Linked DNA regions of Homo sapiens. The protein of the gene in region 1 purifies or fractionates together with the protein of each later gene. This does not show direct contact. Each region holds a gene or a part of one and is shown on either strand. Other genes may lie near its edges.

What was found.
Region 2: the proteins of MYO1F (region 1) and OSTF1 purify together in Homo sapiens (affinity purification with mass spectrometry; 2 studies listed by BioGRID and IntAct, with this or other methods). This does not show direct contact.

The regions. Positions count from the first base shown.
Region 1 is NC_000019.10:8,546,430-8,553,455, forward strand, and holds part of MYO1F (unconventional myosin-If), read right to left. Parts: intron 7,009-7,026; coding exon 6,921-7,008; intron 6,800-6,920; coding exon 6,710-6,799; intron 5,736-6,709; coding exon 5,604-5,735; intron 5,446-5,603; coding exon 5,311-5,445; intron 4,266-5,310; coding exon 4,133-4,265; coding exon of another isoform or gene 4,127-4,132; intron 3,928-4,126; coding exon 3,731-3,927; intron 1,889-3,730; coding exon 1,808-1,888; intron 1,694-1,807; coding exon 1,607-1,693; intron 897-1,606; exon of another isoform or gene 1-896. UniProt on the Homo sapiens protein: Myosins are actin-based motor molecules with ATPase activity. Unconventional myosins serve in intracellular movements. Their highly divergent tails are presumed to bind to membranous compartments, which would be moved relative to actin filaments.
Region 2 is NC_000009.12:75,133,492-75,140,517, reverse strand, and holds part of OSTF1 (osteoclast-stimulating factor 1), read right to left. Parts: intron 6,173-7,026; coding exon 6,123-6,172; intron 2,981-6,122; coding exon 2,902-2,980; intron 1-2,901.

The DNA of each region.
Region 1 (7,026 bases):
GCTCACTGCAACCTTGACCTCCAGGGTTCAAGTGATCCTCTCATCTCAGCCTTCCGAGTAGCTGGGACCGTAGGAGCACACCACCATGCCTGGCTAATTTTTATGTTTTTTGTAGAGATGAGGTCTCACTATGTTGTCCAGGCTGGCTTTGAACCCCCAGGCTCAAGCGATCCTCTTAACTTAGCCTCCTAGATAGCTGGGACTATAGGTGTGAGTGATTGTGTCTGGCTCGGTCTGTCTCTCTCTTTTTTTCTTTTCTTTTTTGAGACAGGGTCTCATTCTGCTGTTGCCCAGGCTGGAGTGCAATGGCACAATCTCGACTCACTACAAGCTCTGCCTCCTGGGTTCAAGCAATTCTCCTGCCTCAGACTCCTGAGTAGCTGGGATTACAGGTGCCCAGCACCACACCTGGCTAAGTTTTATATTTTTAGTAGAGATGGGGTTTCACCATGTTGGCCAGGCTGGTCTCAAACTCCTGACCTCAGGTGATCCACCCACCTCAGCCTCCCAAAGTGCTGGGATTACAGGCGTGAGCCACTGCACCCAGCCTCTCTCTCTCTCTTTGTTAAAAAAATCCCTGTCTCAGGACTGGGCATATTAACTCATGCCTGTAGTCCCAGCACTTTGGCAGGCCAAGGCAGGAGGATTGCTTGAGGCCAGGAGTTCAAGACCAATCTGGGCAACAAAGTGAAACACCAACTCTACAAAAAAGTTTTAAAATATTAGCCAGGCATGATGGTGTGTGCCTGCGGTCCCAGCTACTTGAGAGGCTGAAGTGGGAGGATTGCTTGAGCCCAGGAGGTGTAGACTGCAGTGACCTGTGATCACACCACTGCACTCCAGCCTGGACAACAGAGCGAGTTCCTGTCTCAAAAAAAAAAAAAAAAAAAAAAAAGCGGGGAATGGTGGCTCCCATCTGTAATCCCAGCACTTTGGGAGGCTGAGGTGGGTGGATCACGAGGTCAGGAGTTTGAGACCAGTCTGGCCAATATGATGAAACCCTGTCTCTACTAAAAATACAAAAATTAGCTGGGCATGGTGGTGGGTGCCTGTAGTCCCAGCTGCTCGGGAGGCTGAGGCAGGAGAATCACTTGAACTCTGGAGGCGGAGGTTGCAGTGAGCCGAGATCATGCCACTGCACTCCAGCCTGGGTGACAGAACGAGACTTTGTCTCAAAAAAAAAAAAAAAAATCCCTGACTTACTTCCTCAGTCTCCTCTTGGAGCTTCCTGGGATTGCCTCCCAGAAAAACCATTTGTCTCTGAATCCTTGCCTCAGGCTCTGCTTCTGGGGGAGGGGCAAAATGAAGACAGCAGGGACTATTGCCTTATTGTTCATGGCTGTGTCTCCAAGCACCCTAAACAGTACCTGGCACACAACAGGTGCTCAATAAATAATTGCTGAATGAATGAACTAAGAGGCACGGTCCTTCCCAAAGCTTTAGAGGCAGAAGGAAGTATCACTATGGAGCCTGGGTAGGTTGGCACAGAGAGGTGGGAACGCGGTGGGGAGGGCTGGGGTGTCCCCTAGTTGCTAAGGGATCCTCATGGTCCTTCCACCCCACCCCCACCCCAGGATCCCCCATCCCTGACTGCTTGGCCGCCCACCTGCTCGGCCTTCAGGGTAAGTTCGATAAAGATTTGCTGCAGCTTCTCATTGACGAAGTTGATGCAAAACTGCTCGAAGCCATTTTTCTGCAGAAGGAGGAAAAGGGTCCTTCCCTCAATGTCCTGGTGCTGGAAGTTCTTGTGGCCACCCTGGGCTGCCCCAGGGAGGACAGGATGTGGGCTGGAGGCAGGGGGCCGTACCTGGAAGATCTCGAAGCCGTAAATGTCCAGCACACCGATGCTGTACTCTTCCTGGGGTTTCTGCATAGCACGGTTGATGGCCTGCGGTGTGGGTGGGGACAGGAAGTCAGTGGGCATCGGTCAGATCTGAAGCCCCTGCCCACCACTCCTTAGACACACGCCTAGCCAACTTCATGGGTGATGTCCCCTCATGCCAGTTTCCCTCCAGCCCTCTTTAGCTCTGCCCTTCCTGGCTCTGTGTACAGTCTCCCCACCCCATAATCAGTCACTCAGAGGAGAAACCCAAGTGTCAGTGTATCAGGGTCCCTGACTCCAGAGCTGACTCTGCCCCTGAACCTCTCTGCACCTCTATTTTCTTTTTTTTTTTTTCTTTTTTTTTTTTGAGACGGAGTCTCACTCTGTCGCCCAGGCTGGAGTGCAGTGGCATGATCTCGGCTCACTGCAAGCTCCGCCTCCAGGGTTCACACCATTCTCCTGCCTCAGCCTCCCAAGTAGCTGGAACTACAAGGGCCTGCCACCACGCCCGGCTAATTTTTTGTATTTTTAGTAGAGACGGGGTTTCACTGTGGTCTCGATCTCCTGACCTCGTGATCCGCCCGCCTCGGCCTCCCAAAGTGCCGGGATTACAGGTGTGAGCCACTGCGCCCGGCCTTGCACCTCTATTTTCTTATCTTTAAAAGGGGTTGATAATAGCAACTACCTTATGGGGCTTTTTCTTTTCTATTTTTTTTGAGATGGAGTCTCATTCTGTTGCCCAGGCTGGAATGCCAGTGGCGCAATCTCGGCTCACTGAAACCTCTGCCTCCAGGATTCAAGAGATTCTTCTGCCTCAGCCTCCCAAGTAGCTGGGATTACAGGCATGCGCCACCACGCCCGGCTAATTCTTGTATTTTTAGTAGAGACGGGGTTTTGCCATGCTGGCCAGGGCTGATCTTGAACTCCTGACCTTGGGTGATCTGCCCGCTTTGACCTCCCAAAGTGCTGGGATTACAGGCATGAGCCACTGCACCTGGCCATACATTTTATACTTTATTTATTTTTATTTTTTATTTTGAGACAGGGTCTCAGTCTGTTGTCCAGGCTGGAGTGTAGTGGCTTGATCATGGCTCACTACAGCCTCAACCTCCTGGGGTCAGGGATTCTTCCACCTCAGCCTCCTGAGTAGCCGGGATTACAGGCACCAGCCACCATGCCCGGCTAATTTTTGTATTTTTGTAGAGACAGGGTTTTGCCATGTTGCCCAGGCTGACTCCATACATTAAAAAAGTTTTTATTTTATTTATTTATTTATTTTGAGACAGAGTCTCTCTCTGTTGCCCAGGCTGGAATACAATAGCACGATCTCAGCTCACTGCAACCTCCACCTCCCAGGTTCAAGTGATTCTCCTCCCTCAGCCTCCCAAGTAGCTGGGATTAAAGGCATGTGCCACCACTCCCGGGTAATTTTTAGTAGAGAGGGGGTTTCACCATGTTGGCCAGGCTGGTCTCAAACTCCAGACCTCAAGTGATCCATCCACCTCAGCCTCCCAAAGTGCTGGGATTACAGGCATGAGCCACTGCATCTGGCCAAAAGTTTTTTTTAGAGACAGGGTCTTGCTCTGTCACCCAGGCTGGAGTACAATAGCGCAATCATAGCTCACTGCAGCCCCAACCTCCTGGGTTCAAATGATCCCCCAACCTCAGCCCTCTGAGTAGCCAGAACTACACATGCACACCACTACACCCAACTAATTTGAAATTTCTGTAGAGATGGGGGTCTTGCTATGTTGCCCAGGCTGGTCTTGAACTTCTGGCCTCAAAGAATGCTCCCAACTCAGCCACCCAAAGCATTGGGATTGCAGCCGTGAGCCACTGCACTCAGCTTCCATAAATGTTTGTGACCCCAGAGCATCCACTCTGCCTTCCAGCCCCAGCCCCACTCGCCTCCACGAGGAAGTCGAAGAGGCGGGCATAGAGCCCCTTGGCCAGGGCATCACGGGTGTAGGCTGCCTGCTCCACGTTGAGGGTCACATTGATGGACTCGCTGCGCCCGCCCCAGCGGCTGTCCATCTTGCGGCTGGTCAGCTTCTCCTGCAGTCGCCCGCTGTCAATGCCCAGCAGGTAGGCGGGAAAGGCCAGGACTACCAGGGCAAAGGTCAGGGCAAAAATGGGACAGTTGGTTGGGCTCTTGTGCCTCCTGCATGGGCCTCCTATTATCCCCATCTTGCCCAGTGACACCCACATTTTTTTCCTCGTGGGCTTTCAGCTTCCTGGGGGCTGAGCTAGGAGGACGCAGTTCACCCACCCACAGGCCTCCATCCAGCCCTCCCTGATACCCACACTCACGGTCCACACTCTCCACTCGGGCGTAATTCCCGTCTTCACAGAAACTGATGTTCCCCAGGTGCAAGATCCCCGCCACGAGCTGCAGGACCAGCTGCTGGATGCTGGGCGGGATCCCAATAACCTGCATAGCACTCTGTGGTACAACGGGGGCAGAAACTGTGCCGTGAATCCTGGCCTCCAACCTGCCTCCAGGGGCAGGCTTGAGGGACCACAGCACGGACTCAGGGAGTGAGCACCCTTGGGTCCCTGTCCTACCCCTTTCAGTCACTTGCCGCGTGACCTTGGGTAAGTGCCTGCACCTCTCTGGGCTTTGTTTTTTATTATATTTTTTATTTTTGAGACAGAGTCTCCCTCTGTTGCCCAGGCTGGAGTGCAGTGGTATGATCTTGGCTCACTGCAACCTCCTCATCCCAGGTTCAAGCGATTTTCCTGCCTCCGCCTCCCGAGTAGCTGGGATTACAGGCGTGAGCGTCGTGTCCGGACTGGGCTTTGGTTTCCTATTTTTTTTTTTTTAGAGTCTCACTCTTTCACCCAGGCGGGAGTGCAGCGGCGCTATCTTGGCTCACTGCAACCTCCACCTCCCGGGTTTAAGCGATTCTCCTGCCTCAGCCTCCCTAGTAGCTGGGACTACAGGCGCATGGCATCATACCCGGCTAATCTTTGTATTCTTAATAAAGATGGGGTTTCACTATGTTGGCCAGGCTGGTCTTGAACTCCTGACCTCAGGTGATCTACCTGCCTCGGCCTCCCAAAGTGCTGGGATTACAGGTGTGAGCCACCGTGCCTGGCCTTTTTTTTTTTTTTTTTTGAGATGTAGTCTCACTCTGTTGCCCAGGCTGGAGTGCAGTAGTGTGATCTCGGCTCACTGCAACTTCCACCTCCCGTTTTCAAGCAATTTTCCTGCCTCTGCCTCCCCAGTAGCTGGGATTACAGTCACACGCCACCACATCTGGCTAATTTTTGTATTTTAAGTAGAGACGGGGTTTAACCACGTTGGCCAGGCCGGTCTTAAACTCCTGACCTTAAGTGATCTACCTGCCTCGGCCTCCCAAAGTGCTGGGATTACAGGCTTGAGCCACATGCCTGGCCTGGGCTTCGGTTTCCTAATTTGTAACTCAGGAGGGTTTCTGGGGCTGAGGTCTGCCTGGCCGGGGACTGGAGTAGAGGCCGGTGCTCACCAGAGTCTCACCAAAGTCGCTTCTGTCGTCCGTGCCGTCCACCTGGTAGGTGTCCGATTGGTTGAGGTAGTAATAGTAGTCCGGTGTCATGAGGCCCAGGTTCTGCCTTTGCTCCTGGGAGGCCCCTTCCAGCAGCTGGAGGGTGTGCCATGTTCATGCATCTGGTGCTTGCCTGGCTCAGCCCCTGTGATCCCTCATCTGCCCTGCCATGCCCCCCTAGGTGTTTACCTTCCCATTGTCCACCCCGCTGGGCTCCAGGTGGTGCTCCCTCTCCCCCGGCCCCTTCCCTGCACCTGGTAGTAGATGTGGAAGTTCCTCTCATTTTCATTTTGCATGACCACGCGGGACTTCTCCAGCAAGAAGTTGGAGATCTTGCCCCCATCTGGCTCCCCACCTCGGCTGAACTGGATCTCAAAGTACTTGCCCTGAATCCGAGAGAACCATGTCAGCACCCCAGTGTCCTGGGGTGCAGGTGGGGGAAGGGTTGGGGATGGGTCTTATGAGCCTTGCCTCTCTTCCCTTCTTCCTTTTTTTTTTGAGACAGAATCTGACTCTGTTGCTCAGGCTGGGATTCAGTGGCGCAATGTCGGCTCACTGCAACGTCCACCTCCTGGGTTCAAGTGATTCTCCTGCCTTAGCCTCCTGAGTAGCTGGGACTACAGGCACCCGCCACCATGCCCAGCTAATTTTTGTATTTTTGGCAGAGCTAATTTTTGTATTTTTCATCATGTTGGCCAGGCTGGTCTTGAACTCCAGACCTCAAGTGATCCGCCTGTCTCAGCCTCCCAAAGTGCTGGGATTTCAGATGTGAGCCCCCACACCCAGCCCAAGGGTATGGAATTTATTAAACCATGTCCATGTGCAGGTGTAATACTGAAGTCTATGAGATGGATATTAACATCGTCACCATTTTATGGATGAGCAAACAGAGGAAACTCAGGAAGTTGCATAGATTTTTTTCCCCCCCAGGCTACACAGCTCACAGTGATAGAATCAAACCCTGAATCCATATCTGTTTACCTATCCTGACTTTCACTGGGCCCAGCGCAGCACCCACACAAAGAACGAGTCCCAGAACTATTGTCGAAAGAAGGAATGGATGAGGGAATAAATTGGACCTGAAATGTGAATGGGAACAATGTAGCATGGCTGCAGCCGGGGGAGCATTTAAGAATGTTACACAGGGGTGTCATGGCCTCCACAGTTCTGCCAATGGGGGACTCTCTTTTGAAAGGGACCATGAGCAGGAAGTGAGTCTCCCCTTCAGGAGTAGGTATTTCCTGCTGGGTTTTCAATGGACTCTTGTCTTGGCAATACGGGTGTGTGTATGTGTGGGTGTGTGTGTAGAAAGGTCAGCACGGAGGGAGCAGCTGCTCCAAGCAGGTCTGCAGAGACTTACAAAGCGGCTGGAATTGTTGTTGCGCACAGTCTTGGCGTTGCCGAAGGCCTCGAGCAGCGGGTTGGACTGCAGGATGATATCTTTGACGTGCTGGGGCAGAGGCAGGTGGAGTGGGAAGAAGTCAGACTGAGGCAGGAGTGCAGATGGGTGGGGCTGCACTACCATGCAGGTGAGGGCGACCCAGCTTATCCTTCTGTTTTCCTCGTCTCACCTGGACCTTCTCGCCTCCGCCAGACACCTTGGAGATGTAGCCCATGATATATTTGGCTGCCACTGTCTTCCCAGCTCCACTCTCTCCACTGGGGATGAATGGAGGA
Region 2 (7,026 bases), on another chromosome or scaffold:
TGCTCAAGAGGGTCTTTAGAAAAGACCAAGTGGATAGTGCTTGAGGGGATTAATATTTTATATCTGTAAGTCTGCTCTCATGCAAATTAACAGAATAGCAACACGTAAAACCAAGAGGCAATTCATTATTCCCATAAGCCATCTTCTACCCACTTTTCCTTTGCCTTTATTGTGTTCAAAATTACATCAGAATTCATGAATACATTTGCATTGTTAAGGATTCAAAAATACAAATGTATGCTGAACAAAAGCACAAGTCCCATTTCATTCCTTCATCTTCTACCTACGCCTAAGGTAACCATTCTTAACAAGTGGGTGTGAGTTCTTATCTCCCTTATTTGCATCAGTGCATTCATACACATATTGATATAGACACAAAATCGTACTACACGTATTGGTCTGTGATTTCATGTTTTTAAAACTTTAATGTCTAATGGTACTGTTTTCTTAGCAAATACACATATTTGTAACTCAACCATTTAAGTATTCCATTTTGTGGTGCTCCAAAATTTAATTACTCCTGTATTGACGGGCACTTAGGCTACTCCTAATTTTCATTATCACAAATACTCCAGTGAACATCCTTGAACAACATCTTTGTTCACACGTATTTCTGAAGAATGGTTTACTAAAAATGGTATTGGAAAGTCAGGCTAAGTCCATTTTAAATTCTGACAGCTACTGTCAGATTGCTTTTCATACTAGTCTCTAATGATCCTCTGAATTTCTGTGGTATCAGTTGTAATACCTCCTTTTTCATCTCTGATTTTAAGATTGCTTTCCAAGAAGGCTTTAGGCCAAGCACGGTGGCTCACGCCTGTAATCCTGGCACTTTAGGAGGCCAAGGCGGGCAGATCATTTGAGGTCAGGAGTTCAAGACCAGCCTGACCAACATGGCCCATCTCTACTAAAAATACAAAAATTAGCCAAGTGTGGTGGCGCATGCCTGTAATCCCAGCTACTTGGGAGACTGAGGCATGAGAATCACTTGAATCCAGGAGGCGGAGACTGCAATGAGCCAAGATTGCGCCACTGCACTCCAACCTGGGCAATAGAGCCAGACAGTCTCAAAGAAAACCAAAAAAACAAAAAAAGAAGGCTTTGTCAGTTCATACTTTCTGCCACAGTGTAGGAAAGTATCATATTTTTTTTGCAACCACTTCCCCTTCAATAAACAAAAATAGGCCAGCACAGTAGCTCATCCGCCTGTAATCCCAGCACTTTGGGAGGCTGAGGCAGGCGGATCGCTTGTGTTCAGGAGTTTAAGACCAGACTGGGTAACATGGCGAAACTCCATCTCTACAAAAATTAGCCATGTGTGGTGGTGCACGTTTGTAATTTCAGCTATTCAGGAGGCTGAGGTGGGAGAATCACTTGAGCCCTGGAGGCGGAGGTTGCAATGAGCCGAGATCATGCCACTGCATTCCAGCCTGGGCAATAGAGACCCAGTTTCAAAAAAAAAAGAAAGAAAGAAAGAAAGAAAGAAAGAAGTGTCCCCAAATTTAAAGGCAAAGAAATATTGCATCAAGAAAAAAAATAGTATGTTTAATTAGTAATATAATGATCTTGTGTCAAAATCTTTCTCCTAAGCAGATCATTCTATTCACAGTAGGGTTATATAAAACCTCATTCTCTCAGTGTGCTACAGATCAAAAACTCCTGAGGGTTAACAGTTCTGTGACTAATCATATACTATATTATACTTTAGAGCTCATAGACATGATTTCTATCAGAACAGGAAATATTCAGAGACAGTGATGATAAAGAAGAAACACAACTATTTCCTGGGTCCCTTTAGATGAGCACTAATAGGAATATAATGTGATCCACATATATAATTTTTAATTTTCTAACAGCCACATTTGCAAAATGTGAAATTATTTTTAATTATATATTTTATTTAACCCAGCATATCTGAAATATTATCATTTCAACACATAACCAACATGAAAATTACTGTGATGTTTTACTTTTTGTTTCACTAAGTCTTTGAAATCTGGTATGCATTTTACACTTACAGCACATCTCAATTCAGATAGCCCCATTTAAAGGGCTCAGTTGTGCACGTGGCTAGTGGCTGCCATATTAGGCATCAAAGTCATCAGTATACCCTTTACAGGGCACTAGAGTGATCCTCATAATGTCTGGCCTTTTAGACCTGCAGCTTACATCACCAGCATACTTAAAATCTAAACCATTTCCTATCATATATCCCACAATATTGCTCTGAGGATCCCTAATGAGGGTAATTCCATGACAAGTGTCTTGGGGACTCAAGCATCCTACATGATAGGCTTCTGGACTAGAGTATGGTATAGGTGATCTGCCTGGCCTTCTCTAAGAGTAAACTAATATTTGTGGGACAAAAGGATAAAGGGATAGTCAGTTTATAAATTCACTGTTTCCTCTGACTTATAAAAACAGGGGATCAAGATATCCTCTCTCGTTCACTTTACATCTAGCACCTGCTCAGCTCAAAGCAGGACATTGCAGCCGCATCATTCTTGCTTATCTGTCAAGACTTCCCTGTGAGAACAGGGGCCTCAGCAACTTTACCTATACAGCTTTCTCAGACAGGATCTCCCCAACACACGTGTACACATACATTCTTTGTTTCTAAGGCTCTATAATCCTGCAGAAACATACAATACAGTTCTTACTAAAAGTAATATATGTAATGTTAAAGCTTGCCATGGTTTTAGTTTATATTAAAAACTAACACAAACCAACCCCCAATAATTTTATTTTATCATAACTATTCCATGATACACAGGCAGAGCAAAGGTTAAACCCTATTTTGAAATAAGACTATTATTCTTCCTACCATTTCAAATGGCGTAAGTTGATATAGACTATTTTTCAGGGCAAGCAAAGACCAGATAAACTCAGCACAAACTTTACCTTTTGCCAGAAGCAACTGGACGATATCTGCATAACCCTTCCAGGCAGCAGCATGCAAAGCTGTATCTCCCAACTTGTTCTATAGTGATAAAAAGAGAAAGTACCATTTTTAAGATAGAGGGTGGATTGAAAGTACATGTTAATTCAGGTTTAACCCAGTTAAACCTAAAAGTTAAACCTAAAATGGGAACAAAGTTATAGAACCACATAAAATTCCAAAGAGAAAAGGAAAGGAGACTCAAGAGATGGGAGAGGAGTCATTTTTGGGAGATGGAATAGGATGGAGGAGTACAAGCTGACTTGGTGGAGCACGAGCTGAAAAGCACATGCCTGCGGAGGGAGATCCAGGAGGAAGGAAGCAGATTTGAACATGCAGAAGCCTGGCAAAAATTAGGAATTGGAGATTCCTGGAGGTGCTAGGGCAGGCATGAGGCATGGGTGGGAAAACAGAGATATTGGTTTAAAGTACTCATAAAAAGTAGAATCTCAGAACCTCTTCCCCTTCTCTTGCTGCCAGATGACCCAATAATGATGACAGATTTACTTGTTGAGAAATTAACCTGATAGTTTCCAAGTTCATGAACACTAGGTACAAGAGAAGTAGCAAAAGGCCAGAAACTCAAACCTGAGGGTTAGGTAAAAAACCTACAGACTGAACAGTAAGACCCCTCTCTCAGGTACCTTTACGTACCCCACTGCCCAGTGTGCACATACCCCCAGGCAGGAGACTGGAGGGCACTTCTCTGGTGAAGCAGTGCAGCCCCATGTGCAGGGAAGGGAAGGAGTGTCACTTTCATTAGCATTTGGGTGTCACCTAGCAAAATAGCCAGGACCTCACCACATCACCCTATGGAGAAGCCCAACCGCCAGCAGGCCTCACCAAGCACACACAGCTTCCAATCACACCTAAAAATGAATGGATAAGGGCCAGGCATGGTGGCTCACACCTGTAATCTCAGCACTTTGGGAGACCGAGGAGAGCGGATCACCTGAAGTCAGGAGTTCGAGACCAGCCTGGCTAACGTGGTGAAACCCCGTCTCTACTAAAAACACAAAAATAAGCCAGGCCAGTGGCATGGGCCTGTAGTCCCAGCTACTTGGGAGGCTGAGGCAGGAGAATAGCTTGAACCCGGGAGGCAGAGGTTGCAGTGAGCTGAGATTGCGCCACTACGCCCCAGCCTGGACAACAGAGCGAGACTCCATCTCAAATTAAAAAAATAATAATGAATGGATAATGACACCAAGTGTTCGTGGAAAGCCTACAATATTTTAGTAAAGACCAAAACAAACAAAATAAATGGATCTCAAAGGGAAAAAACACAGTACAGTGAAGAGCCAAAAAACATAGTTTGAAAAGTTATAAATATTATATCAGCAAGATATAAGATCATATTGTGTCATGAAACAAGAAAAAGATACTACGTAAAAGTAACAATCAGAGTAAAATAAGGGCTTATAACAGAATTCTAAGAATGGCCCCCAAGGTTCCTGGCCCTGGTACAGGCCCCCTCCTCTTGACTGCAAGTGAAAGCAGTGAATGTAACAGGCTATCACTCCCATAATTAGGTTTCTAGTCAGCGGATGTTGAATTCTTCAAAAGGGACATTATCCCAGGTGGGCCTGACCTAACCAGGTGGGCCCCTAAAAAATAAAAACAATGAAACAGCAGAGAGACAATCTCCTTCTGGCCTTGAGGAAGAAAGCAAACAGCCATACTGTGAGCTGTCTACAGAGAGGGGTGGCCTCTAAAAGCTGAGGGCCTCAGTAATACTACAGTTAGAAGAAAATCAATTCTTCCTACAACCTAAATGCACTTGGAAGAAGACCCCAAGCTCCAGATGAGAATCCAGCTCCAGCCAATCCCTTGATTTCCACCTGGGAGACCCTGAGCAGAGAACGCAGCTATGCCATGCCCAGAATTCTGACGTACAGAAAGTATAAGCTGCTAAGCCTGTGGTCGTTTGCTAGGCAGCAATAGAAAACTAATACAGAACTCTGGGGAATTAAAAAGATAACCAAAATAAAACAAAGGTGAGAATATCTCTGGGAAAAATTAAGAAAACTGAAGGTTCAATCCAAGAAGTCCAACATCCTACTAATGGGCATTCCAGAACCAAAAGAACAAAGAAGGGTCAGATAAAAATTCTAAAAGAAATACAAGATAATTTTCCAGGCTGAAAGAGTTCATCATAATCATTGGGAAGAGATGAATGCTAGCACATCATCATAAAATTTGAAAACACCAACAATAAAGTAAATACTCTTAGCAAGAGAAAAAGCAGATCATACATAAAAGAATGGGAATCAAAATGGCACCAAATCTCTCAAAAGCAACCCTGGAAACAAGAATGCCACAGAGCCATGCCTTCAAAATTCTAAGGGAAACTGTTTTTGACCTAGAATTCTGATCAGCCATATAATCAATCCCAAGCTTCTCTTTCTCAGGAATCTACTTGAAGATGTTCTCTGACAAAAGAAAGACAAGGGATCCAGAAAAATGAAGATGCAACATGGCAGAGAACGGAAGGGGTTCCCTGGAGGACAGCAAAGGGCCACAGGGACCAAGCTGCTCAGACTGGAGAATGATGGAGAGCTTCAGGAAGTAATGAATCCAGGGAGAAAAAAGAAAGCTGTTGATTATCTTACACATTTTGGAAAAGTATTATATATCAAGACTGTATAAAACAGTAGAGAAGTCACAGTGAGATAACAAAAAATGAGTTTTAAAAAGTAAGTACAGAAACAAAAAAAGGTTATATAAGCAGTGAACACTATTTAGACACCCATAATAAAGTAAATATTATATAGTAATATAACCAAAAACTGTGATGAAGTACACTGAGGAGCAGAGGAGAACAGGCTTGGTGCTGGGGTGCTGAAAGATGAGAGCTGGGGCAGCTGACAAGCTTAACCCTTCACATACCCAACAGGAGGCCAAAGTACACATGAAGACAATGCATGGCGAGATAGCTCCGTCAGCCTATTCCTTAGTAACACAAAGGTAAGTACAGGAAGAAAGAGCTAAAAGCTGAAAGTGACATATGAGGAGGAGTGGGTTTGGCACTTGGGGCTGTGGATAATTTGAATTTTAGTACAATTATAATTTTTAAATTATGTGCTTGTGGGATTTTGACTACAATACTTCACATGCCCATGAGTTGCTCTGTACTAAAGACAACAAGCAGGTATGTGTTAAATAATTTTCAAATAAGCAGTCTTACCTGCTGGTTCAGTTCAATATTTGGTTGAGTAAATAGCATTTCCACTATATCTGAAATTCAAAGAGAAAAGATACCTTTTAAGAACGAAAATTAGAAGCCTGACAAATCTAGGTACAATAATTTTATAAAAGAGAGATTCTTCAGAAGAACCTTCAAGAAAATGTTAACACATTTTGTAAAATTTATAAAATAGAAAAACTTAAGAATCTAAAAAGTGGAATTATTTAGGAAAATATACTTTTTCTAATAGTTTTGGCTTTTGCATTTTCATATGACACTTAGAGGAATATTTTTACATTCACTATAATACTTTTCATTCATATAACTAACATGTTTATTAGCTGAAATAAGATAGGCTTCTTTTTAGTAGACAGTTACAAATTTTCCTTTGGCACTGCTATTTAATTTGTTGAGATCTTCATTTCTTATTGTTGTTGAGTTTATTTCTTTTGTTATAGAGAGAGGTAGAAAAGCGGTGGGTGATAAATTTTTGTCCAGGAAGAAATACATCTAAAAATTCAATTTGTCATTATTATTGATTACAACAGAAAAAGTATCAATGGAATCACTAACTTTGGCAAATGTTGGCTTTCTCTTGAATCTAATAGTTTGCATTAAACTTAAAATGCAAATCATAAAAGAAGACCTTGTGAAAAGCTAAGCTAGAGGAGCAAATTCTGATCTTTCCTTCTGTAAGATTAGACAGTGGTTTTGTTTTTATATTACTGCTGTTTTCCAGTAACCTTTCTAAGCCTGAGAGAGGAAAGGAAGTGTCCAGTCTTTCAAGCGAGAGGGACCCATGCAGTGAGGCTGACTGACCACATTCTACCCACTGTTCTACAGAGCTTCCAGGAACAAGGGTTTTGGCCGGTATTCTAAAGGATTCAAAAAGAATAGCCAATGC